Linked DNA regions of Homo sapiens. The protein of the gene in region 4 purifies or fractionates together with the protein of the main gene of each other region. This does not show direct contact. Each region holds a gene or a part of one and is shown on either strand. Other genes may lie near its edges. The genes, in order: ATP11A, H1-6, PTER and NPDC1.

Region 1 (6,913 bases), on a different chromosome or scaffold from region 4:
TCTGTGTCTACAGCAGTTGGCTCTGGCTTTGGGTTTGTCATTTCAGGTCTCGGTGCAACAATTCTTCTGAACTGTCTTTGCAGGAAGACCTCATTTTTTTGCCCCCACTCCCTTATTTCCCCCCAGTTTTTTTCACTTAGGGGCCAATGAATCCAAGATTTCTTTGGAAAGAAAGGTGGAGGGAGGAATGCAGGATAGGTGTTTATGAGTCTGTGTGTAGGTGAGGGTGTGGCCAGGGTGTCACCTGAAGCACCCATTTGCAAACCCACAATTTCAAGTCTTGGGGTTGGCCTCCTAGCTGTTGCCTCCTCCTCATTCATCCCATCCCTCCAGCACTGTGAAGCAGCTGTGCTCGCAGTGGGTCAGGGGTAGGTCCTGGTTATTTGAGGCGAAGACAATTTCATTCCCCTTGGACACTTACTAGTTTGGTGATGTGCACTGACCTCGGGCCTAAGCCAATCATCTCAGGGACTCTGCTACTTGCGTGACAGACTGGGCAGGAGTGGGCACGTGACTTAGCTGGCACGTCACTGTGAAGTCTCTCCTTCTGCTTAGATGTGAAGGAAGAAACTTGCAGGCCCTGGAGTTCTGGCAGTCGTTTCACTTTTGAATGCACTGGGAGGGGCACCAACACATTACATTATCATTTATTCAGTCTATGGTAGATTATTTCCAAAGATAATCCCCCATAAATTCTCTGTATGATAATCCCTCATAAGGATTAGGAGTTCTCATAATCCCTCATAAGGATCCCTGTCTGTACATGGGATCCTCCCATCAAGGAGTGAAATCTACGTTCTTATCCCTTGAATCTAGGCTGGCCTTGGAATTTATATTCACCAGTAGAACATGGTAGAAGTCATATTCTTGGACTTCCAAACCCGGGCCTTACAGGCTGTATAGCGTCCACATTGACCCTCCTGAGCTGCCATGTAAAAAACTCAGGCTAGACCACTGAATGATGAGAAGCCAGAGAGAGACAGCAAGGCCGGCCTGCCCCCAGTGTTCTATCACCCTAGCTGAGACCCCAGCTGTGTGACTAGACCACAGGAAGCTTCCAGCCCCAGCTGACCCCCAGAAGAATGCAGCTGCAGGACAATCCCAGCCAACAACAGGTGGAGCAGAAGCACCATCGCACCAATTCCGCAGGGTCCTGAGAAATGGTAACCCACTCACTGCCGTTTCAGCTCCTGCACTCGCGGTCACTCGTGACACAGCCAAAAATAACTGACTCACAGGGTGTCTTAGTCTGCTCAGGCTGCTGTAACAAAATCCTTTAGATGGCTATTCATACACACAGAAGTTTGCTTCCCACAGTTCTGAAGGCTGAGAAATCCAAGATCAAGGTCCCAGCAGATCTGGCATCTGAGAAAAGTTCTCTGCTTCATAGAAGGCCTCTTCTAAGCATCTTCATATGGCAGAAAGGGCAAGCAGGCTCCCAAAAACCTCAGTTTTAAAGGGCACTAATCCCATTCCTAACCACCTCCCAAGGCCCCCACCTCTTAATATTTGGGATTAGGTATCAGGTATTTGGGATTAGGTTTCCACGTGTGAATTTGGGAGGACACCTTCAGACCATAGCACAGGGTGAGTTGGACTTTGTTTTTTAATAGCCCTGATTTTTTTTTCTTAGATTTACCGTGAAGATGCTGACATGTGTTAGAAACAGAAAATCCAGCTCATGTGGTTTAAACGGAGACGTCTCTCATAGCAGGAAATTCCAGGTGAGGGCAGCAGGATTTTGGTGAATTGCCTGGTTGTGCCACCAAGGACTCCTGCTCTTCTCATCTTCCCAGGCGGCCACCCCAGGGTGAAGATGCTCTTCCGGCCACCTTCTCTTATAAGTGCAAAGGGCTGCGGAGCACCAGGCATTGCATCCAGACAGGGAATGCAACATTCACCAGGGAAAAAGGAGCATTTCCTCTTTATGTTCCTGTAGGAGTGAGAAAACCTTTGCCAGACAACCCCCAGCAGGCTTCCTGTTGGGACTCATTGACTTGAGCTTGTTTGAAGCCAATTGTTGGAAAGAGAAATGGAGTTACCAAGATTTTCTCAAGAGACAGAGTTTACCCTTAGCCACACAGAGTGGATACCTGAACCAGCAAGGATAGAGAGGGCATGGCTGCTGCATTGTCAACCAACAGTATTCACAACAGAATGAAAAACAATTCACATTTACTACTGAATAAAGCAGACACTCCTGACAGACAGGCAGCCTTGATCTAGTGCCTTATACAACCTCTGATTGCGCCTCGACCCCAATCCCACAGTCACGGTTTACAAGGTAGAAGCTTAGTCAAAATCCGGCTTCAGCAGTCAGGGTTCTTGCAGGAAACTGAAGGTGTTCTTGGGAGGGGATTTGGAAGCGAGTTTGATGAAGGACTCTTTGTTGCGGTGTGGTCATGGTTCAAGGATCCTTCAAAGGGTGCTGCTATTTAGGGACCAGCAACAATGGCAGACCGACAACATGTCTCACCCTAAGAGGCTTGGGGGCGGGGAGAAGTTCTGTTCGTAGAGCCTAGAGGAGTTGTGCAATGGAAAGGGCACCCAGGAAGAATCGTAGCCACAGAGTGAAACCAACACTGGTGGGTGTGGGGCCAGGCCAGGAAGGAGAGGGGAAGAGGCCCCTGCCTCCCTCCTACCCGGTCTGCAGCAGGTTGTCCCTGTGGGTGAAGATCCACTGAGGGGGACCGCCAGCTTCCTGAGCACAGGGCAGGCCAGAGCAGGACAGGCTGGGATGGAAAATGAAGAATCAGTGCTTTAGCCGACAACAAATGGGAGCCGTTTACTGTTTAGTCACTATGATTAGTGTTCACTAGTACTCATTTCTCTTCGTCTAAAAAGTGGCCAACACCATCTCTTTTCCACAAGCACTCGGGAGAACATTCATATTCAATTGCCTTCCTAAGACCCAGACGGGGCAGCGCTCTCCACAGGCCACCAAAAGGTGTTGCCTGTTTGGTTTCATCAGTGATTATCTGTGGCAGCAAGACAGGAAGTTGGAAATCAAGTACCTCAATTAAGTCAAGGCTGACCGTGGAATTAGAGAACAAGTGTTTGTTACCCCGGCCAGGTCACCCTAGGGAAAACAGGCATTCTCCGGGATTGAAATGGTGGTGTTTGTGTGGTAAATAGTTCTCAGTCCAGTTCAAAGCCAGCAGCATTAAGGACACGCCACCGCCACCGGGAGCTGGAGACCAGGCGAAGCTGAGCTCCTCTGTGGTTCACCAACCCCTCAGGCCGCCTAAGTGTCTTCTGCTGTCGCAGCTTTGGGGACAGAGGGGTTTCGGAAACAGGGGCCTCTTGTCTGCACCCTCCCCTCCCACTGACAGGCTGGCAGCCCAGGGCAGCCACCTGAGGAGCGTCCCTGTGTCTCTCCATCTGCAGAGCAGGAAAAGCCTGCGGGTCGGTGGCGCCACGCTGGGGCGAGACCCAGCTTCGGCTCAGGAGATCTCCCACCCAGCCGGACTCCCGCTCTCTGCCCGCGGCCCCCTCCCACACTCCCACCTCGCCCCGCGATCTCACTGCCCCATCGAGGCTTCCGGGCGGAGGAGAAAAGTTTTCCGGCAGGAACCCGGGAAGGAAGCCCTGGGACCCTGGCTGAAACTCCGGGTTTCCCCAGTGCCGAGTCCCTTCCCCGCCGCGCCCAGCGCCTGCGCCCCGGGAGGCGGAAGCAACAGGGGGGTTCCTCCCCGCGGCCTCTGACCTCTGCCCTCTGCCCTCTGCCCCCAGGGTCTGGGGCCCGGGCGGAGGCGCGAGGGGGCAGGGCCGGCGCGCGGGTGCGAGCGCGGGTGTGGGCGCGGGGCCGGCGGGGGCTGCGGCCGCGGGGCGCATGCTCACTTGCGCCGGTGACGTGCGCGCCCGGAGCAGGGGCAGGAGCCAGCGGGGCCCGGAGGCTCCAGAGGGCGGCGGGCAGGGGAGGAGGAGACTCGGGAGGAGCAGAGCGCAGGCTCCGCCGCGGCCGGGGTGCTCCAGCCGAGCCCAACCGAGCGGGCGGACCGACGGGGAGAGAGAAGGCGCCAGAGCGCGCGCGCGCGGCCCCGAGCAGCAGCCTTGCCGCCAGTGGAGCAGCTGCCGACGCGCGGGGCCGCGGACCCAGCATTCGCCGGCCGGGCCGGGCATGAGCGCGGAGGGGCCGCGGCCGCCCCCTGCACCGCCCGGCGCGCCGAGGCCGTGACCGGAGCGGGGGGCGCGGCCGCACTAGTACCCCGGAGCCCATGGGCGCGCCGAGCCGGGCGCGGGGGCGCTGAACGGCGGAGCGGGAGCGGCCGGAGGAGCCATGGACTGCAGCCTCGTGCGGACGCTCGTGCACAGATACGTGAGTGCTCCCGGCGCGGGCTGGGGGACCCGGGGACCAGACAGACGCGGGCCGGCCCCGCAGCCCGGACCCTGTGGCCGGTCCAGCCCCGGGGTCCCGGGAGGTCTCCGATGTCTGGGACTCGGACCGCCCCCGGGGACGAGCGGGATGCTGGGGAGGGGCCTCGGAGTTGACACCCTGGGGCTTCCGACGGGGTCTAGGTGGGCACAGCGCGGGGCCCCAGCCCCGGGCGGCCACCTGCTCCCTGGCCGCGGCCGCCTGGCGCCCCCTTCCCGCCCGCAGCGCCCTGGGGGTCCCTCGGAGAGGCTGGCTGGGGTTCGAGCTGTCCCGGCGGACCGGGCGCCCGGAGGGAGCCAACTTCGACCCCGCCGGGGCCCGGGTCTGGGGAGGAACCTTCAGATGCGGCTTCCGCGCAGCCGTGTCTGTAAGATTAAGGGATTGGGAGGAAGCGTTACACTTCTGCAGAAAAAGGTAGCAATTGTGTTTGTTCTTTAACACCCCTGGGGGATTCAGAAGCGGAGTTTGGAATCTTTTTATTTTTTACCTTAAAGTAACCAATTAGATCAGAAGTCCGGGGTCTTCTTGGGTTCCTCTGGAATTTGCCCCTTCAGTGATAAGCAAGTGAAGAGCTCAGGAGGGAAGACTCGGAAGGGGAAAAGTTGATTTTGTTTTACACCAGAGGAGGGGAAACCGGAATCCCTGGCGTTAGGTGTAAAAAGGGGTGTGTGGCCGGGCGCGGTGGCTCACGCCTGTAATCCCAGCACTTTTGGAGGCCGAGGCGGGCGGATCACGAGGTCAGGAGTTTGAGACCAGCCGGACCGACATGGTGAAACCCCGTCTCTGCTAAAAAATACGAAAATTAGCCGGGCGTGGTGGTAGGCGCCTGGGATCCCAGCTACTCAGGAGGCTGAGGCAGGAGAATCGCTTGAACCCGGGAGGCGGTGGTTGCAATGAGCCGAGATCGAGCCACTGCACTCCAACCTGGGTGACAGAGCGAGACTCTGTATCAAAAAAAAAAAAAAAAAAGGGTGTGTGTGTGTGTGTGTGTGTGTAGGAGAGGAAGAAAACTGTCCCAAGCACAGCGTTTCCTGCCACTGTCTTGCACAAGAGGCTTCATTGTTCCATAGAGGCTGGCGGTCACTGGTCAATCACAGGTTCGAGAAGTCGCATGCACCGGGTTTGATACTAGAGAGGGCAGTATTATGGGAACTTTGTTCTTTCCCGGCATAGGAATTACCTCAGGCAGCCTTTCATATTTATGAGCCTTCTTTAAATAGGAGACCTTGGCCAAAGATAGATAGGTTTCTTTTCAGTGGGGGATGCCAGATCAATGCTTTCCCCCGGATTTATTTATTAACCAAAAACCTCGGAGAGTCAAGGAGACTTGAGTGCACCTTACATCGTTTCCTGATCTCGGGGAAGCCTTAGGAAGGTCAGCCTGACTTACTTAAGTGGAGAGAACTCACCCCTGGTGATTCTGATGATTCCGATGCTAGATCTTGAAAGGCTTGGCTCCAGGAGCCTTGTGTTACTCCCTCACTGGTGCTCGAGCCCCCAGTTCAAATCCTAATGTGAGTGGTAAACCTGTGTTTCACTGTGGTAACGTTATAGAAGACCCAATCACAGTGACTATAGGTAACCTGCAGTGTAAGAGAAATGCTTTATTGGGCGGAAGCTTCTGTTCTCAGTTGTGTCGCTCAGAAGTGTGGGTCCCTAGACACCTTATTTTCCTGCTTTGTTTCCTTCGAGCGAAATGGAAGAGGGAAGGGACTAACACTCACTTTGCCCGCGGTGTTCCCAGTTCATTCCGTTCCCTTCTAACACTCAGTGTTAAAAAGGAGGGTCACGTTGTGGGGCTAATGTGCAGCCTCTTTCCATAGAAATGAGAGATGGATGGGCCAGCCCGGCTCACCCTTTGGAGAATCCCCCCTTCCCAGCCGGTTTCTGACCCCTTCATCTTGGGAGGGGGACAGACAGACGTCCAATTTTGATGCTTGACTCCCTTTCTCCAGGCCTTCAGCTGTTTTCTGTTATATAGATCTATATAAGTGTTTGCGTAGCTTGCATTTTTAATTCCCCTTTGCTGTATTATTACGCTTATGGCATCACATTTTCTTTTAATCTAAGCGGTAAATATTCTTTAGTGAACTTTTCCAGCATATACATTATTGGATAACGTCTCGGGAATACGAGTTGTGGGATAATATTATTTCTGTTTTTCTCATTCCACCTGTGTTTTTTGCAGTGTATTCATCTGGCTACCTCACCCATATTTACACACAGAGCCATTCATCTCTATCATTTTAAGTTCATGTCTATGGTATTAAACTAATTTGACTTTTTCCAGAAACAGTCATGATCTGTTTTCTTGTAATTGCGTTATCGTCCACTATGTAGGACTAAATTATATTTCCTTTTGCTACAGAAAAAAGAGTCTGGGATTGAATACTCATATTTCCTCATGGTTTCCTTATGTGACTTACTTTATTAAAAAGGATAGATAAATAGACCCTGTTCCTTCTTGGTGTTCACATAGTCAGAATTCCTGGGACAAAGAAAGCTTTCCAGCTCCTTCTGATGTGTGAGGGTGGCTAA
Region 2 (6,120 bases), on a different chromosome or scaffold from region 4:
TACTTTTTTGTAAAACCAGTAGTCTCCAACCTTTTTGACACAAGAGACCGTTTTGTGTAAGACAATTATACCACGGACCAGGGGGTGCAGGGGCTGGGAGCAATGATTTCCGGACTAAAACTGCTCCAACCTCAGATCATCAGGCATTAGATTGTCACAAGGAGCCTGAAACCTAGATCCCTTGCATGTGCCATTCACAATACAGTTTGAGCTTATGAGAATCTATCTAATGCTGCAGCTAACCTGACAGGCGGTGGAGCTCAGTTGGTTAATGTTCGCTCACCCCTCAGCTGTGCGGCTCAATTCATAACGTGCCATGGACAGGGACCGGTTACCGGTCGGTGGCCGGGGAAATGAGGACCCCTGGTATAGATGGTAGTCTGGCTATGTTGCCCAGGATGGTCTTGAAGCCTGGCCTGAATTAATTCTCCAATCTCAAGCCTTTTCAACTCAGCTGCATCACAACTTAAACCTATAGATAACTGTCACAGAAACTTGTTTCCAGTGTTACGCCATCTTAAAATAATGTGGGTGGCTCTTAAAAGAGCCTTTGGGTTCTTTCCAAATTGGCCTCCCGGAAAGCTCTTTACTTCTTAGATGTGGCCTTTCTAACATTAACTTCATGATGTTGGGTCAATTTTGACTTCGAAGCCCTTGCCTTCACTGGGCTCTTCTGCTGTTGCTTACCCTTGGCTCCTTTAGCCTTTCTCCCGCTCCTAACAGTTTTAGGAGTTGTCGCTCTCGGCTTCTTGGCTCTCTTATTGGTTTTAGCAGTCTTTGGTGACTTGGAGTCCCTGGATAAAACCAGCTTCTTGGTCTTGGCAGAAACTGACTTTTTAGCCTTGCTTCTGGTAGATTTAGGAATCACCTTCTTACTAAGCTTAAAGGAACCGGAAGCACCAGTACCCCTGGTTTGCACCAGGATTCCCTTGTTCACTAAGCTCTTGAGGGACAGTTTGATGCGGCTGTTATTCTTCTCTACGTCGTAGCCAGCAGCGGCCAATGCCTTCTTGAGCGCAACCAAAGACATACCTACTCGTTCCTGTGACACTGAAAGGGCCTCGGTGATCAACTTGGACACAGAGAGGTTCGGCACTTTGCGACTTGCACTTATCAAGCCAGCCGGCTTCCTCCCTCGCTTCTTGGTTGGAAGTTTCTCCATAGCGGCTACACCAGCACTGGCAGAAGCTGCAGGCACGGTTTCAGACATAACAACAGAGAAACGCAAGATGTAATAACCAGCGAAAAGCATGAAACACCCGGGCGGCCTCGGGGCCTTATATAGGGTAGGGCGCGCTGTGATTGGTGCATCACCTAGGCACCGCCCCCGCCCCTTGGAGGAGGAGTATTTGTGTTTGTTTTACCCGGAAAAGTTGAGTATAACAAAACCCCTCTTTACAGAATCTCCCAGGGTCTAGTGCTGAATAATCTGCGGAAATTCATATTTGACATGACTTTTCTCTTTTTAATGAAAAATGACCCTGGATGCCAAAACTATTCGAGAAAGCCCTCGATTTTCAATCAAATTCACGGAGAGGAACAAAACTTCCCCTTTTCCTTGTAAATTAATAAGTAATCTTTGGCAGAAGACTTATTTCATCTCTTCAGAGTGGTCTTCCAAATGGATAGCTTCAAATCGGTAGAGGAAAGAAATTATTCACGCCATGATTTTTATTTAAAATTATTTATATATGTGAGGGAAGTAACACAGATCTCTTAGCTGTCTAATTGCGGAGTCAGAAGATGCTTATAGAATTGTCAAAAGACTGCAGAGGATGTCTTTATTTAGGCATGTGCAATCTAATAAATCATAATCCACAGGAACATGGGTTGTCTGTAATTAAAGGTGCTCCCAAGTCCCTGTAGCTTTATAGAGGACTCTCAAGGATGGGGTAATATCAAGATCTCACACATTATGTAAGATTGGCCATAATCAGGCCACTCTCATGACCGGTGTCCTCAACTGAGTTTTGCTTCTGGTTTCATTAATTGAAGTCCCCTCTATCCCCCTGCCCACCCCTACATCCCCAGATAAACAGACACAGTCCCTCCCCTAAATTAACTATAAAACATGAGGTAGGAACCCTAGACTCAAGAACCTACTAGAAACTACAGACCCCATGTCTAACAAGACTGGGCGGGTTGGCTGGGCGCAGTGATTCATGCCTGTAATTACAGCACTTCGGAAGGCTGGAGGCCAGGAGTTCAAGACTAGGTTGGCCTGGTCCCTACTGAAAAAAAAAAAAATTAGCTGGGTGTGGTGGCACATGCCTGCAGTCCCAGCTTCTGGGTAGACTGAAGAGGATCACTTAGAGCCCAGGAGCTTGAGGTCGCAGCTACTGCACTCCAGCCTGGGCAGACCCTCATCTCTGAATTGCTTAATTAATTAACTGAGCTGGCAGATTTGGCTGCATAGCTGTGGGGAAAGGGTTGTTGGAATAATGTCCAGTGTGCTCCCCTGAGCTTCTACTGGAACAGGTCTTTGTGAGAGGCCTGGAGATAAGAGCTTGCTCACAAAGGCTGAGGCCTTTCTGGGATGCTGAATGAGTTTAGTGTGGCCAGAGCATAGGGTCTCAGCAAAGGAAAACTCCATAAGGGCCATTTGTGAAGATCCCCAAATACTTGTGTGAAACATTTGGTAGATATTAGAAGTTTTGTTTTGGTTTGGTTTGAGACAGAGTTTTGCTCTTGTTGCCCAGGCTGGAGTGCAATGGTGTGATCTTGGCTCAGTGCAACCTCCACCTCCCAGGTTCAGGCAATTCTCCTGCCTCAGCCTCCCAATTAGCTGGGATTATAGGCGCCCACCACCATGCCTGGCTAATTTTTTGTATTTTTAGTAGAGATGGGGTTTCATCATGTTGGCCAGGCTAGTCTCGAACTCCCCACCTCAAGTGATCTGCCCGCCTCTGCCTCCAAAGTGCTGGGAATACATGCGTGAGCCGCCGCGCCCGGCAGACATTGGAAGTTTTTAAGCAGAGAATTTGTTGTATTGTTGTAGTTGTCTTGGGTTTAGATTTATTGCATAAACAATCATTTTTGAGAAGGGCCCACAGTCAGAAGTTGGGAGTCTGTTGCAATAGTCTCAGAAGAATGGCAAAGACCTTGCCTAAGGGGACAGTGTGGTAAAGGAGAGAGTCTACATTTGAAATATTTCTGAAACAAAAGCCAAAAGATAAGACTTCAAACTTCTGATTGCAAAGTGAGATAGAAAAGTTTCTTTCTCTCTGTCTCTCTGTTATACCCATACACACACACATATGCACAAACACCTGAAAGAAAAAAAAATTCAGGGAACAGGCCAGGTAGGGTGGCTCATGCCTATAATCCCATAAATTTGGGAGGCTGAGGCTAGTGGATCACTAGAGCCCAGGAGTTCACAAGGCCAGCCTAAGCACATAGCAAGACCCTGTCTCTACAATTAAAAAATTACCCGGGTGTGGTGGCACGTACCTGTGGTCCCAGTTACTCAAAAGGCTGAGGTGGGAGAATCACTTGGGCCCAGGAGGTCAAGGCTGCAGTGAGCATGATTGTGCCACTGCACTTCAGCCTGGGCAAGAGCGAGACCCTGTCTCAAAAAAAAAAAATTTTTTTTTTTTTTCCAGAAAACAATACTATCTTAAGCACCAGCACTTTAGTATATTCTACTGTGGACTAGTTCATTTTTAAAAGAACACTAGGTTGGAAATCATGAGATTGATTCCACAACTCACTAAAGCACCGTGTCACTCAGTTTGGAAAATATTTCTCCTTAGAGAGATTACAGGTGCATCTTTCTGAGCACCTGTATGTTTTTACATTTGTTTGGCTTCTCTGACCTTTGATAATTTCTGAGTGTTGTACTATTAAATATTAGTGGCTAGGGGTCAAATTGTGGATCAGGTTGATCCTTATATTTACAAGTTGACAGATACGTTACTCCATTGCTTTAAAACTAACACAGAATTAGAGAATTTAGAAAATTCTTACATTCCATAATTTAAGACCCAGAAAAAAAAGATTCATATTTTGCATTAGATAGCTAAAATGGTACCATAAAAACAAATGATATCCACATATATATAGTATATAGTGCTTCTTCTGTGCCAGTCACTATCCTAAGTTTTTCTCTCCCTTCCCCAAAAATGTAGGAATTAACTTTATAGATGAAGAAACTGAGGCACAGGAATGTCACATGACTTGCCCAAAGGAAATTCAGTCTTCCTTTTTCAATTCTTTTTTCTTTTTACTTTGCTGCAGGGTCTCGCTGTGTTGCCCAGGATGCTCTTGAACTCCCGGACTCAAGCGATCCTCCTTCTTCAGCCTCTCAAAGTGCTGGGATTACAGGCATGAGCCACTGCGCCCAGTCAGGAAATTCAGTCTTCTAAACATTCATTATTGAAATAATATTTCCATAAACATTTTCTTAGATAAACTTTGGCATCTCTAACTTCTAAGTAGCAAAGTCATGGAAACAGTCACAGAGAAAATAACTTTATTTTAAAAATAATAAATTCTTATCTCCGGTGATAAGAAAAGTATACAGCCCATTTTTTAAAGTATTAATTTTACATTCTAATTTGGTTTTTTTAATGTTTACCATATATTTCTCTTTCTACATATGTGTGTGAGTGAATAAAATAAAGGCATCTACAGATTTTTACATGTTCAGTGAGATTAGCAGGGTTTCACTTGACAGCACTCTTACCATACTCACTTCTTGGCTTTTCCTGATATCTAACATTTTTAAAATGAGTAGTCCCTTTTCATATGATTCTTCCTTTTTCAAGCACTATTTTTGAACTTTATATTTGATTGGCAATAATTTTTACAGACATTATTTTACGATTAACTTTAACTCTGTTCAAATGATTTCTTCATTTTCAAGTATTTTATTTGAACTGCTTTTTTTGGTTCAACTACTGAGTATTTAATTTGTCTGTTTTGTAGAAAGGGTATGTAGATAATTCCATGTTTTGTAAAAGTTGTCTCTAAAAATCTAACAAGTGTAAGTACGATGCTATTACAGGGCTGAGAGACACAGAAAAAACACACACACACACACAAAATTTTTTTTTAAGTATTACTTGGTCTCTAAACTAAAGAATTTACCATCTATTTTGGGAGATGAAATCCAAACATAAGCAATGACAACAATTATTATGTGCTTAAATCAATGTCCAAGACAATAATTGACCCCAAGGCAGGGAAATCACTGAGAGAGTATAGCAGAGAAGGTGTCCTCTCTGTTCAGATGAGCCTGAATAATTTGTTCAGTAGGTTTCTGCTACTCATTTATAAACTGCACATCTTCTGTAGTCCTGGAAAATGTCTAAGAGGAGAGAGGAACTAAGATCAGGGCCACCATTTAATTAGGAAGTTCTGGGAGTACCTGACCCAGAAGAAAGATCAGCATAGCTGAAAATCACCCATAGGAGAAACATCTAGGTAATCTTATTTCTGTTCCACCTGACATTTCAACCTCTCTTTTCAGCTATAAGTATATAAGTACTTATATGTAAGTAAAGAAATTTACCCACATCATGTTGTTTTTTATTCAATGCTTAACATGTATAATGCTAACAACACAGACTTGATGTCCAAAACATTTCTATGAACAGCTCATTACTGGATGACTGAAATAATTTTTCCAAGCCACGTGGAGGTTAATGAGTCAGTTTTTGAAAGCAAGGAGAGAAAAACATTAGAATTTAAGGTGACGTTTCTGTTGCGTTGTAATCCAGAATACAGAATAGTCAGAGAAAAGCAGAAAGTCTTTCTTCTTAAATTTTCTGAAAACCAAGGTGTGCATTAAAATGGTACATGCCTACTTCCCTTTCCCTTTACCCTTTTTTCCTGCATGGAACATAGATATGACCCCTAGACATGCTGCAGATGACCATGAGGTTGAAAGATACATGGAAGATGGTTAACACAGGATGATAGAAGAGACCTGCATACTTGGGCAGCCTAGACAGCTCCTGCCAGCCCCCAACAAAACAGCCTAGCCTTCTTGCCAATCAAGAAAAAAAATCCCTTCTGGTAACCCACTGTAAGTGAATTTCTGTAAATGTGGCCCAATGTATCCATAATTGATATACAAATATTAGTTTAGTGGGTAGCACCTCTCCATGAGCATGTCGA
Region 3 (7,028 bases), on a different chromosome or scaffold from region 4:
TTGCCCTGTATAGTGCCTGGCAGCTGTGTGGTGATTCTCTGAAGAGACACTGCCTGCTTTTCTCTTAGCCACCATTTGAATTGCCTAGCTGATAGAAGTTTGGCTTCCAGAAAGGCACTATCAAACAAAATCAATGGCCATGTTAGCCACAAGTCCTAAGTTCTGTCCAAAAGTCTAAATCCATCATTTATGCCTTATAAGCCAATATATCGCAAACACCTGAGTTCCAGATAATTGCAGTGGCTTGCTATAAATTGGCCTACAATTCTGTCACCCTCTGACCTCTGATGTTGTTTTCACCTTGTCTTACGTGTGTACTATACCCTTCACAAATTTTCCCCTTTGTTCCCCCAAATCATCTCCCCTCTCATCAGCCACTTTCTCTGAAAAGAAATAATCTAGGATATACGTGAATAGTTCCTAGAATTCGCAAAACAAAGCTACTATTTGTTGAATATGGTCTGCGTGCCAAATGCATCTACAGGTATTTTTACCTGTGGTATCTAATTTATTTTTACGACAGTCTATGAAATGTGCTTCGTTATTTTAATTTACAGATGACAAAAATGGAAGTCAAAGAAGGCTTTCAAGGGATATGGGGGAAATGATGACTTCAGAACACTATTTGAAGGAACAGTTTGAGAGCTTGGAAACACGTGATGCTCCTTTTCTTCAGTTCCCAGAGTCTGGGACTCGAGTCCTGATTTTGCTCTTGGCCATGCAGGAGTTTGTCCTCACTATTTTCAGTAGCTCTTGTTCCTTTATAAACCCTTCATTTAGGAAATGTACTTAAAATTTTTTTTTTTGAGACATAATCTCGCTCTGTTTCCCAGGCTGGAGTGCAGTGGCGCGATCTCGGCTCACTGCAACCTCCGCCTCCTGGGTTCAAGCAATTCTTCTGCCTCAGCCTCCCAAGTAGCTAGGATTACAGGCACGCTCCACCACACTTGGCAAATTTTTGTATTTTTAGTAGAGACGGGTTTTCACCATGTTGGCCAGGCTGGTCTCAAACTCCTGGCCTTATGTGATCTTCCCACCTCAGCCTCCCAAAAGTGCTGGGATTATAGGCATGAGCCACTGCACCTGGCCATTTAATTTTTAATTTAAACAAATTTTTTAAAAGGAAATGTACTTTTAAAGGAAAGTACTGGAATTGGAGTTCTTGGTATCACTGATAGACATTGGTGAACACTTAATTTGTGCTACAAATGAAAGCAAATCGAGGATAGAGAGGGCTTTGCTCTTTTTAGAGATAGCCGATTTCAGTTTCAATAAATCACAATCGCTTTCATTATGGCTAAGAATCTTTGCTTTTCAGTATTTTTGAAGTGTGTTTCTGTGTGCCCTAGACAATCAAGCATTCAACCTGAAGAGGTTCGTTTCTTGTTGTTATTTCATTATTCAACCGAGTGTGCTCCTCAGTTGTTTTGGGGAGGGGCATATTCTATGAAGTCGTGTGAGTCAGAGATCTTGTCTTTTGTTTCTTTATGGCTCTAATTTCTGACACATCATGGACCTTCAACAGAAATTTGTTTGCTTGGGTAGTGGAGGAACAGTAGAAAGATCAGTTGTGGCCACGAGTGATGGTTCACACCTGTAATCCAGGCACTTTGGGAGGCCGAGGCAGGCAGATCACCTGAGGTCAGGAGTTCAAGACCAGCCTGGCCAACATAGGGAAACCCCATCTCCTAAAAATGCAAAAATTAGCCAGGCTTGGTGACACATGCGTGTAGTCCCAGCTACTCAGGAGGCTGGGGCAGGAAAATCCCTTGAACCCAGGAGGCGGAGGCGGAAGTTGCAGTGAGCTGAGATCGTACCACTGCACTCTAACCTGGGCAACAGAGCAAGACTCTCCCTCAAAAAGAAAAAAAAGGAGGAAAGATCAGTTGCTTCAGGATATTTAATTTAGCTAAAAAGTGACAAATGAAACAGTACTGATACATGGTTAGTTTGGATGTAAGTTATTGATTCTGAATACTTTTTTTTAATTACAATTACTGTTGATTTATCCAAGAATGCATAGCTATGATTAAGAGATACAATTAAGTTAAAGAAAAGTGAACTGAATATCAAAGAATATTTCCAGTAGATAAGGTTAGGACTAACTCAGGCAGAGGACTCCCAGTAGAAGGGGTGGGAGGCAATTAACACCACGCACGTCACTTAGATCTGCAGTGGGGATAGATTCTGAAGTCGGCAGGATTGTGAGATCGTATCTCTAGTTTTATTGATTTGCCTTCTTACATGGGTATATGTTCACAGCCTCCCACCCCTTACGGACAAGAGTTTATGTGTGTGTTAAATATTCTGATTGTAGTTGTTTGTTTGTTTGTTTGTTTTTAGAAAAAAGAAATCCTCTTTTTAGAACATCTCTTGGTGGTACCATCAGAAATGTCTTCCTTAAGTGGAAAAGTCCAAACCGTTTTGGGCCTTGTAGAGCCAAGCAAACTGGGCCGTACCCTGACCCATGAACACCTGGCCATGACCTTTGACTGCTGTTACTGTCCACCTCCCCCGTGCCAGGAAGCTATTTCCAAAGAACCTATCGTGATGAAAAATTTATATTGGATTCAGAAAAACGCCTATTCCCATAAAGAAAACCTTCAATTAAATCAGGAGACAGAAGCCATAAAGGAAGAACTGTTGTATTTTAAAGCTAATGGTGGAGGGGCTTTGGTGGAAAACACAACCACTGGGATTAGCCGAGACACACAGACGTTGAAGAGGCTTGCAGAAGAGACTGGCGTCCATATCATATCTGGAGCCGGGTTTTATGTGGATGCAACTCACTCCTCAGAGACCAGGGCCATGTCAGTGGAGCAGGTAAAAAGCCTAAGTTCTTTGACAGTATTTGTTCATAAATTCAGAACAGCCAGAACCTTGGAAATGCCCTGGGTTCAGAGGTAGCTGGGCATGCTACGGAAATTTGCTAGCTAGCAAAGACATCTGCCAGTTGGGGCCCCAGTTAGTAACACTGTATTTCATAAAGAAAGTGCCAATTTTGCAAGCAAGCCTTGTGGTAAAGAAAAAAGAAAATAATAATAATAAGTGTCAAGGAAAGAGATCTTAGTGCACTGGTCATTGCAAAATCCAACGTGATAATAGTTAGATTTGTGTGTATCGTATCTGTCCTCAGTATTGGCACCACAGTCTATTTGTAAACCTCACTTTTCCATCTTAAGTTATGCTACCTCGATTTTTTTTCACCCTGGATTTTATAATAACCAGCAATGAAGATTCACTGTAGGGTGAAACTTGGCAGTCAAAGACTTGGCACATTTGTGAATATGTTTCAGTTTCCTTTCACAAAACAGGAGAGGTGGAAGAAAATTCATTCCCCTGTGTTTTGTCATAATATGGTCTTAAGAATGGGCAGAAGGAAGTAAATTGTTTAGGGACAAAAAGAATAAGGTGCAAAACCTTTTTTGCACGTGTATGTGTTCTCTTTCTAAACACACATGTATCTATTTATACATGTTTACACATATATGTATATATTCGTATGTATCTTCCATTGCCTGCATGACAGGCATAGGGTGTCAGCTCATTCTTTGCAAAAGATCACTTACTCTCTGGAGTATTTTGTATTTCAAAATTTTTTCTGCATTATTTTCCAACCAGGACTTTATTTTTTTAATGTATTTTTGTTGTTTAAAGACTATGCTGATGATGAGGATTATATATTCTTCCAACCACTTTTAGTGGTAACTATACATATGAACCCAAAAGTCTAATAGTAGTATAGTGTGCTGTGAATTTTCTATGCTGTCTATGATAAAAGACTGGAATAAATAGGAGAGAATTAAAGCATTTCTTGATGCCTTGTGCGGTGATGCAAGCGTGTAGTCCTAGCTACATGGGAGCCTGAAATGGGAGGTTCACTTGATCTCAGGAGTTCCAAGTCCAGCCTGAGTAACATGGTGAGACCTCTGCTTCTTTAAAAAAAACAAAGAAGAAAGAAAAAGAATGACTTGATACACGGGACATAGATTCAATTCATTGGCGGTCTTTCTATATTCTAGATGCTGCTCCCCAGGTTAAGTTACAGATTTTTTTTTGCTTCATCCTGAATGTACTCTCATTAAGTCACTTTGTCCCCCTCCAGCTTCCTAAAGCTATAAATTTCTTGTTAAATAATCATGGTATGATATTATCGAATCTTGGATTTAGTGCAACTTGTTGATTTTTGATTTGGCCAGCAAAATGCCTTTTTCCTTGGCCAATATTAATTGATAAATACTGAATACATTTTTAAAAGAATGAATGACAAAATAAATAAATTCATTCACATACTGTGGTGGATCTATTTTGATAAATTTCACAACCTATAAAATATATTCCTTCTCACTCTTCCTTAGCTTACCGATGTCCTTATGAATGAAATTCTCCATGGAGCTGATGGAACCAGTATCAAGTGTGGCATTATTGGAGAAATTGGTTGCTCCTGGCCTTTGACTGAGAGTGAAAGAAAGGTTCTCCAGGCCACAGCTCATGCCCAGGCTCAGCTTGGTTGTCCTGTTATTATCCATCCTGGACGGAGCTCCAGGGCACCATTTCAGATTATCCGAATATTGCAAGAAGCAGGCGCAGACATCTCCAAAACAGTCATGTCACACCTGGATAGGTAAGTAGGCTGTCTTACAAATGGATGCAAACTGCCATATAATTAATGCATGATCAAATTAAGAATCTACAGTAATCAGTCAATGCAATACTAATCACGCAGAGAAAACCACTAACTATATGGAAGGTAGTATTTATAAAGTTTCACAACTGACATGAATAAAAGTCAATGCTGCCATTTTTGTGTCCCTCCTCTGTGTCAGATAGTGTCCTAGGTATTTCACATAAGATATTTCGCATAAGTCATTTCCTTTAATTTACTCAATCCTTTATAACTCATAACAGGTGTCACTGTCTACTTCATTTCTTTGTCTCATGGGATGCTATCAAAGTAGCTGCCAATTCCACTTGCTCAATGTTTACCAGTAGTTGGAGTAATAAAGTTATCACACATATAAAGGGAGGGAATGTCAATGGTTTCACCCAGAGAAGAAAACCGCAAATATAAATGTTCACATTTGTGTCACTTGTGGTTTGAATCATCTGAATTTTGGAAAATGCAATTATAAAAAATAATAGTAATAAGTATAGCATGTGTTGGGTAGTATCATGCATTAGTTTCCTATTGCTACTGTAACAAGTTATCACAAACTGGGTGCCCCTAAACAACAGAAATTTAGTCTCTCAAAGTTCTGGAGGCCAGAAGTCTGAAATGAAACTTTGTCAGGGCCCCGCTTCCTCCAAAGGCTGCAGGGAGAATCTTTCCTTGCTTCTTCCATAGCCTCAGATCCAGCTGTTCCATGGTTTGTGGCTGCATAACTACAGTTTTTGCCTCTGTCTTCGCATAGCCTTTTCCTCACTGTCTATGTCTTCTCCTCTGTTTGTTACAACCACAGTTGCCATTGGATTTATGGCCCGTCCAGATAATCCAGAATAATCTCATCTCAGATCATTTACTTAATTATATCTGCAGACCTTTTCCCCAAATAATGTCACTTTCAGAGGTTCCAAGAGTTAGAATATGGACCTATCTTGTTGGGGTTCACCATTTAATCCCTACATATTATTTTAGATGCATAGGGGACAGTAAAATGAATGACTAAATGAAGAAATGCCAGCTGCTGTTAATTTTATGAACAAGTCTAACTGTTGCTAAGGCTACTCATTAGCCTTCAGTTGAATTTATTATAGAATTAATACAGCACCAGTGAGACTAATAATATATTATAGTTACTTCTATCTTGCCTATTGGAGTAAAGCCATATTAACATATTGATAAATCCTGATTATCAGACCAGACAGATTGCTATTTCATAAACTAACAGTCCTGCAAAATGTATTGATAAAATGCCTCTCCTTATGAGGCTGCAGTGAACCATGACCACTACACTCCAGCCTAGGCAACAGAGCAAGACCCTGTCTCAAGAAAAAAAAAATTCTTTTACTTAATAAAAAATACTGTGAAATCATGTGCAGGAAATATAAACAAGTTGTAGTTATAGCAGAACAGAGAAGTCAGTATTAATGGGGAAACTGAGGCATAATAGGATAAAGGTAATTCTCCTGGCAACCAGGTTGGTATCAAGATCCATACTTGGCTATCTTGAGGAATCTTCTGGTTGCACTGATAAAGTAGAGGCATGCTTCTATATACTGGTCACAGAGACAATGCATCAGACTGTGAAAACTAGACTCTTTGGACCCAGTGAGAACTTTGAATTCTAACTCTCATTGGTGTAACATCTTGGACAGCTTAATTTGAATTTAAAACAATGTATTTTATAATGTTGCCTTGTATGATATGGGATATATGTAGCACATTTACTGAGTAAGGATGATACTTTTTAAACATTGTGAAGTACCTCATACCTTCAAAAATGTATTACACTAATACTTTTAAATTTTATAAAATGTTTTAGATTCTTAAAAGCGTTGCATTCTGCAGTTATTATACAGTGTAATTGTTCTATATGTCTATTAGAACATAATCATTTATCATGTTCAAGTATTCTGCATTTCTACTAATTTAAATATATATATATATATGGAGAGAGAGAGAGAGAGAGAGAGAGTCTGTCTCTCTGTTGCCCAGGCTGGAGTGCAGTGGCATGATTTTGGCTCACTGCAGCCTCACCCTCCCAAGTTCAAGTGATCCTCCAACCTCAGCCTCCCAAGAAGCTGGGACTACAGGCATGTGCCTCCACACCTGGCTAATTTTTATATTTTTTGTAGAGATAGGTTCTTGCCCTGTTGCCGAGGCTGGTCTCAAACTCCTGAGCTCAAGCAAGTCACTCGTCTTGGCCTCTCAAAGTTCTGGGACTATAGGCATATGCCATTGTACCTGGTCATAAATTTCTTTTAATTGCGTGCTTGGCATTCCTTGGGATTCCTGAATGTAAGGATGTACCTTTCATTGTTTCTGAAAAGCCTCAGCCATTATCTCTTTAAATACTGTTTCACTCACA
Region 4 (6,835 bases):
TGACTGCGCCCCCTACAGGCCTTCTCTGCCTTCTTCTACACTGTGGACTTTTTGCGGACTTCGATGGGGCTGCCCGTGGCCACCCTGCAGCAGCTGGAGGCAGCCGCAGTGAATGTCTGCAACCAGACCTGGGCTCAGGTGAGCCCCGCTCCCACTCCTTCAGGGCTGTGCGGAAGGGCTCAGCCTCCGCCTCCGCATGCCTCCCCAGCCCTGCATGGACAGGCCTCTCGGAGCACCCGCTGCAGTGGGGGCGATGGCAGGCATTAGGCTGACTCCAGAGGTGGCGTGGCTGTGGCCGGTAGGCTGTGAACAAGTCGGGCGGGTTGGAGAAGCTTCGCCAGGCCCGACCCTCATCCCAGATCTGGAGGGCAGGGGGAGGCCGGTGCCCAGGTTTCTGGCTTCTGCCACTGGTTCCCTCCATGGTACCACACAAGGGAAGATGGAAGTGGGTCTGGGCACCGGGAGTGTGCCCACCGGAGACTCCAAGAGAAACGTACGAGTCGTCCCAGGACCGGGGTGGTGAGCGAGGCCCCATTTTGTCCTCCCAGGGCCTAGTCTCAGACAGACTGGGGTGAGGGAGGTGGGGACAGGCGGCGAGCCAGCGGGCAGACTCAGGCCTGGAGCTCGTCCTGTTCCCCTGGCCACACACCAAGGTGTTGCTGCCTCCTGCTCCCTGGTGGCCATGCCTGCTGTCCCTCCTCACTGGCCTTCCAGGCATGGGCGCTGGCTGGGGAGGGATGGAAGCGTGCCCTGCCGGGGGTGCCCCTCGGACTCGGTCTTGCCATTCGTGTCCGGGCCTGTGTGGTGGTCTCTGGCCTCGCACGGCCCGTGTGTGTCTGGGGAGGGGTGAAGCACGCCGCCGGCCCCCTCTCCCCGTGGGGCCGAGACCTCCTGGTGGTCGCCTGCCTGACGGTGTCCCGCCCGCGTCCCAGCTGCAAGCTCGGGTGCCAGGGCAACGGGCCCGCCTGGCCGACTACTGCGCCGGGGCCATGTTCGTGCAGCAGCTGCTGAGTCGCGGCTACGGCTTCGACGAGCGCGCCTTCGGCGGCGTGATCTTCCAGAAGAAGGTGGGCTGGGGCGGGGCGGGGCGGGGCCGACCTTGCGGGGCGGGGCCTCTCGGGAGCTGAGGCCACGCCCTTCCCCGCAGGCCGCGGACACTGCAGTGGGCTGGGCGCTCGGCTACATGCTGAACCTGACCAACCTGATCCCCGCCGACCCGCCGGGGCTGCGCAAGGGCACAGACTTCAGCTCCTGGGTCGTCCTCCTGCTGCTCTTCGCCTCCGCGCTCCTGGCTGCGCTTGTCCTGCTGCTGCGTCAGGTGCACTCCGCCAAGCTGCCAAGCACCATTTAGGGGCCGACGGGGGCAGCTGCCCCATCCCTCCCCCAACCCCTGTATCCCCACCCCGTACTCCCACCCCTCCCACAACCCCTGTACCTCCCACCCCTGTATCCCCACCCCTCCACCCACCCCTCTCCCAACCTCTCTCCCCGCCCCTGTATCCTGCATTCCTCCACCCACCCTCTATCCCCCACCGCTCCACCCCACCACTGTCTTCTCCATCCTTCCACCCCACCCTCAGCGTCTCTGCCCCTAAGGCAGCCCAGGAAATAGGAACTGAGACTCTGGTACCCACAGGAGCCTGGGTGGGCAAAGAGCGCTCAATCCAGCTCCTTGAACCCCTCCAGCCCGCTTCAGCCTGGGCATCACTGCAGGCCCCGTGCTCCTCCTCCTCCTCCTCAGGGCTGGGTCTCCAGAGAGTGGGGCCTTGGTCCTGAGAATCAGCCCTTAGAGGCTCCTTCTGTGTAGTCTGGGTCTGTACTGGGGAGGGTCACAGCCCACGGGCTGGCAGCCAGCCCAGCACCTACTTGTAAAAATTTTGTAATAAAAAGTTTTTCCTAGAGACGTGAAAGGAGAGTGTCTGTGGGGTGGGGCATCCTTGCTGTGGCCTGTGCCCCCACCTTCCCGCTGTTCTAGCCGCACGGGCCTGCCCTTGGTCCTGAGGGTGGACACCATCCCTCCCTACTGCCTTCTGCTCTGGAGCCAGGCCTGGGGCACTGGCTGCTGCCCTGGTGTGCCGTGGCAGCCTAGAGTAGCTGCAGGATGGCTGGCCCGAGGGAATGTTCCTGGGCCCTTGAGTCTTCTCTGGCCAGCAGAGTTCCCCAAAACCATCACATCCAGATCTGCGTTGGTGACCAAGGCCAGACTGAAGGTTGGGTCCTGGTACAGTGAGCCTGGGGGTGAGGGTAGAGGTCAGGGAGGTGGCGGAGAGTGGGTGGCAGCCAGCCAGGCGGCTTCCTAGGGGGCAGTCAGTGCTGGTAGAGACTGGCGGGAGGGCAGGCCCACATCAGGAGGTGGCACAGGGGTGGGAGATGAGATCAGGACCAGGACCCATAGGCAGGAATCTTGCACAGAACCTGGCTGTGGAGCTGAGCCATGCAATGGCACAGGGCACCTTGCCCTTCTCACCTGGGACTGAGTGTCCTGCACCTCCAAAAGGCATCCTGCAGCCCCAGCCAGGCCCTGCAGCCCCTCCCCAAGCCAGTTTTCTCCAGGATGGGAAGGCCTGGTCTTGCCCACTCGCCTCCTCACCTTCCTGGGAAGTGAGCTTAGACACTGTCTCTATGCTCAGTGCCCTGGCGAGGAGGGTGGTGGTTCTTATTCTGCTCTTCCCTCCCCTCTTCACCATTTTTTTTTAAAGTCATTTGATAAACCTGAGGGCAGCCAGCCCCAGCTTTGGAGTTCTGAGACTGGAAGGACCAAGGGGACACCCCGGGTTGGAGGTCTCACTCTTGTTCTCTGAATGACTAGTCAAAGGAGGTTTCTAGTGGGATGGGGTGGGCGTGCTCTTGGGAGGCAACAGGTGAGGTGCAAGGGGGGCATCAGAGATGCCCGTTGTCAGCTGGGCACAGTGGCTCACGCCTGTAATCCCAGCACTTTGGGAGGCTGAGGCTGGCGTATCACCTGAGGTCAGGAGTTCAAGACCAGCTGAGGCAACATGGTGAAACCCCGTCTGTACTAAGAATACAAAAATTAGCCCAGCATGGTGGCACGCGCCTGTAATCCCAGCTACTCAGGAGGCAGAGGCACGAGAATCACTTGAACCCGAGAGGTGGAGGTTGCAGTGGGCCGAAATGGCACCACTGCACTCCAGGCTAGGCGACAGAGACGCTGTCTCAAAGAAAAAAAAAAAAAAAGATGCCCATTGTCCTGAGGGAGCTAAAGGGCTGTCACCTGGGGACCCTGAACACCTTGGACAGCTCCCAGCTCCGGTCCTCAGTGGCTCCGGATCACTCTTGCCCCCTGGTGGCCTCACTGAGCGCGGCCGCCGCGGCTCCAGCCAAAGCTGCAGTCGGGGCCGGGGCCGTTCTGTGTTCCTGTATTTGCTTTTCCCGCGAGTGGGGGTGCCCCTGCCTCTGTGGGCACACCTGTGCCTTCCTGTGCACCTGCCCAGCTCGTGAGCACCTGTCTGCGTGCGCCCGGCGCTCCTGTGTCTCTGTGCGCTCGCGAGGCTAGGCCCACACAGGTCCTCTGCCCCATCGCGGGTGCGGGTGAGGGGCTCGGAGTCCTACCGGGAAGAGGCCAGAAGGGAGCGCATCCTGGAGAAGCCCACCCGCGGCCCAAACCCAGCCGGACTTCTGGGAACCGCACCGGCCCCAGAGACCGCAGGTGCCGAGACACCCTGAGGCCGAGAGAGGTCCAGCGAGGCCCGGAGAGGGGACCAGAACTGGAGCAGGGGGAGGGGGCGCAGTCTGGAGCCGCCCTCCCGCCCCCTCAGGTGGAGCGCGCAGGCGCAGTCTCCGCGTGCGCGCCTCGCCGGCGCCTCCATCCCGGATCCTTGCTGCAGCGTCAGCGCCGCCGCCCGTGCCTTTCCTCTTCCTCCTCCTCCTCCTTGGCATCCGCCTCTTCTTCCTCCTGCGTCCTCCCCCGCTGCCTCCGCTGCTCCCGACGCGGAGCCCGGAGCCCGCGCCGAGCCCCTGGCCTCGCGGTGCCATGCTGCCCCGGCGGCGGCGCTGAAGGATGGCGACGCCGCTGCCTCCGCCCTCCCCGCGGCACCTGCGGCTGCTGCGGCTGCTGCTCTCCGGCCTCGTCCTCGGCGCCGCCCTGCGTGGAGCCGCCGCCGGCCACCCGGGTGAGCGAGCGCGCTGGGCGCAGGCCGCGGGGCGCCCCGGGGCCGGGATCGCCGGGCGGGGACCGGGTTGCCGGGCGCCGCCGCCCTCGTCCTGCCCAGGCCCGCAGGCCCTGCAGGCCTGGTCCGCTGGTGGCGGGGGCCCCGCCTCGCCCACGATGGAATAAACAGGCCTGGCCGGAGGGCGCAGCGCGGAGCCTCCAAAAGGCCGCGCCGGATGGGGCTTCTGCCGGTTCCCAGAGGCGTACCTTACATTCATGGCTTCTTCCGCCGGGAGCGCGTCTGGCTCAGGCCTCCGCGCCGCGGCCATCTGGCTCTGGGCGGGCCCGCCGGGAGTCTGCCTGTGTGCGTCTCTGTGTCTCCGTGTTCGGGGCTCCTGCGGGTGTGGGGCTGGCCCTGAGTGCCCGCCGGCTTCGCTGCCGGTGCGCGTCCCGGGGTCGGGGCCTCAGTGCTGCTCTGCCTGTCCTCACGCCTTGGGTGGCGCTGGGCACCGGCCTTGTGCGCCATGGTGGGCGCTGAAGTTCTGGGGGCACTTATGGCGCAGGCTCGGGGTGCTGTTCTAGCTTCAATAGGAGGGAGACTGTTGCAGCCTCAGAGCCTCCGCCTGCATCCCCTGCCCTCGAGGGCACTGGCATTCTGTCTTTGGGACTGAGGGCTGCAGGTGGACTCCGGAGGAGGGTGATAAGCCCAGGGTCCTGGGACACCCTCTCACCTGCACAGATGGGTCCTGAGGGTCCAGAGAGCAGAGCTCCCTGCAGGAACCCAGGATGCAAAGCTGACGTTTTTCTGGGGGGACTGAACTGGGAGACTTTGCGACTGCATTCGTACAGTACTCCTGGCAGCCCTGCAGAAGAGGTGCTGTGAGCCCGTTTTACAGGCAAGGAATCCGAGGCATGGAGAAGTTAAGTGGATTGTGGCACAGCTGAGGCGCTGTCCTGGGCAGCCTGGTTCTGTGTGTGTGGCCTCAAGGGGCCAGAGTGAGGCCGGCTTCCTCCTGGGCTCAGTGCCCCTGGATGGGAGGTGGGCATGAACAGGAGAGGCTTCCGAGAATCAGAGTGTGCTCAGCCAGGAAAGGCGGAGGCCACCTATTCAGGAAACGGGGCTGCAGCTGCTGTGCTGAGCCCGGGTGGGTGGCAGGTGCCAGTCCTCAGTTCACCGGCCTCTGCAGCTTCGTGTCTGCCTCACCGGGAGACCTGGCAGGGCCCTCCCTAGGCAACTCCTCCCATTCCCAGTGCCCAGTGCTTGGAAGGGAGGGCCCTCAGGCAGCCCAGACGTTGGCGGGTGGAGGGGGGTGTGCCAGCCACCGTCCAGCTGCTCTTGTTCCTGCGACCTCTTTTCAGGAGGAGGAAGTGGGGGATGGAGGCTCCTGGGCTGGGGAAAAGGGCTAGGAGGGGCCTGGAACCCAGACCCTAGAGCCAGCTTTGTACCTCAGGCCCCTGCCTTTGGCGTGGTGGACGGTGGGGTATCAGCACAGGAGCGGGGACTGCCTCACTCCCCAGGTGCCAAGTTGGCGGGTGGGCCCAGGTGGACCTGCTGGCACAGGTTTAATGTTTAACGTGCCCAAGTCCCGGCCCACTGATACTGGAGGCTGCTGCCCCAGGTTGTGGAGGGTGTGCGGTGCCTGGCGTTGGCTCCTGTGCCCACCTGCCACTGCGGCTGCTGGAACTGCCTTGAAGGAAGGCGGACAGCCTGAGGGCCCTGAGTGTCAGGTTACCAAGGAAACCAAACCAGCCAACCAAGGTCTGGAGAAGGATGATGCCCCGTGTGGCCCCCGTGGCCCTGCCTGCAGTGTGCAGTGTGGGGCTGGGCAGAGAGGAAGAGTCCTGGTTAGCCAGAGGTGCCACCGCAGACTCCCCAGGCAGGGTTGATGGCCCTGCTGGGGTTCCCCTGGCTCCACTGGCTTGCTGTGACTGGGGACATTCCTTAGCTTTGAGGCAACTCAGCTATATCCCAGAGGGGAAACTGAGGCAGAGGGCCATTGCCCCCTCGCCCCGTTCTCCAGCACCAGGATAAGACTGATTAGCCACATGTGTCAGCTGGCACCGTGGCCTGGGCCCCTCATCAGCGAGATGAAAGTGTGGTTAGGAACTAGGGAACTAGGGCCTGGCCTGCCATCCCCAGCACTGCCAACCTCGGCCTCCTGAGGCCCTCGGGTGCCACCTGGCCCCTGACTGCAGCCCCTGGTGTGGTGGCTTTGGGAGTGACCTGCCTGGGTTCTGTGTCTGAGGCCAGTGAGGTCAGCAGACTCCATCTTAGGTGTCCTCGGTGCCTGGGGGACAAGCCAGAGGCTGGAGGAGCAGCATCCCTTCCAGGCTGCACACTTGTCAGTGCCGGGTTCTGGGGAGAGCCGCACGGGAAGGAGAGGTCGCTGGCGGCATCGTTTGCTGCTCCCCAGAGACAGACCTGGGCCCTTCCCTCTGGGACTCCCAATCTGGACGGGGTTCCTGGCTTGCTGTGGGGCATGTTGAGGCCGGAGGCTGGGCTTGTGGGGCTGCACGGCCCTGCCCAGGAGAACTCAGCACTGCCTGGACGGCGAGACTCAGCTTCTGAGCTGAGGGCTCTATCAGGCCTGGAAGTGGACCCTGGGGAGGGGTGGGGCAGGGTAGTTCTGATAAGTCCTAGGACTGTTCGCTTCCGGGTTCTGAGCCCTGGCGTCAGGGAGGAAGGGCATGTCCAGAACAATGGCCAGAACCAGGCCCGGCCAGCTC

Evidence for each region.
Region 1: the proteins of NPDC1 (region 4) and ATP11A purify together in Homo sapiens (affinity purification with mass spectrometry; 3 studies listed by BioGRID and IntAct, with this or other methods). This does not show direct contact.
Region 2: the proteins of NPDC1 (region 4) and H1-6 purify together in Homo sapiens (affinity purification with mass spectrometry; 3 studies listed by BioGRID and IntAct, with this or other methods). This does not show direct contact.
Region 3: the proteins of NPDC1 (region 4) and PTER purify together in Homo sapiens (affinity purification with mass spectrometry; 3 studies listed by BioGRID and IntAct, with this or other methods). This does not show direct contact.

The regions. Positions count from the first base shown.
Region 1 is NC_000013.11:112,686,138-112,693,050, forward strand, and holds the start of ATP11A (phospholipid-transporting ATPase IH), read left to right. Parts: upstream 1-3,900; 5' UTR 3,901-4,279; coding exon 4,280-4,318; intron 4,319-6,913. UniProt on the Homo sapiens protein: Catalytic component of a P4-ATPase flippase complex which catalyzes the hydrolysis of ATP coupled to the transport of aminophospholipids, phosphatidylserines (PS) and phosphatidylethanolamines (PE), from the outer to the inner leaflet of the plasma membrane.
Region 2 is NC_000006.12:26,106,884-26,113,003, forward strand, and holds H1-6 (histone H1t), read right to left. Parts: upstream 1,253-6,120; 5' UTR 1,211-1,252; coding exon 587-1,210; 3' UTR 529-586; downstream 1-528.
Region 3 is NC_000010.11:16,481,994-16,489,021, forward strand, and holds part of PTER (N-acetyltaurine hydrolase), read left to right. Parts: intron 1-1,144; exon of another isoform or gene 1,145-1,941; coding exon of another isoform or gene 1,942-1,956; intron 1,957-2,343; coding exon of another isoform or gene 2,344-2,391; coding exon 2,392-2,823; intron 2,824-4,358; coding exon 4,359-4,624; intron 4,625-7,028. UniProt on the Homo sapiens protein: N-acetyltaurine hydrolase that regulates feeding by catalyzing the hydrolysis of N-acetyltaurine into taurine and acetate. N-acetyltaurine has anorexigenic and anti-obesity effects that are dependent on GFRAL receptor and GDF15.
Region 4 is NC_000009.12:137,043,173-137,050,007, reverse strand, and holds the start of NPDC1 (neural proliferation differentiation and control protein 1 precursor), read left to right. Parts: upstream 1-3,830; 5' UTR 3,831-4,018; coding exon 4,019-4,130; intron 4,131-6,835. Other genes in the region: ENTPD2 (ectonucleoside triphosphate diphosphohydrolase 2), read left to right, coding at 19-138, 933-1,067, 1,148-1,351. UniProt on the Homo sapiens protein: Suppresses oncogenic transformation in neural and non-neural cells and down-regulates neural cell proliferation. Might be involved in transcriptional regulation.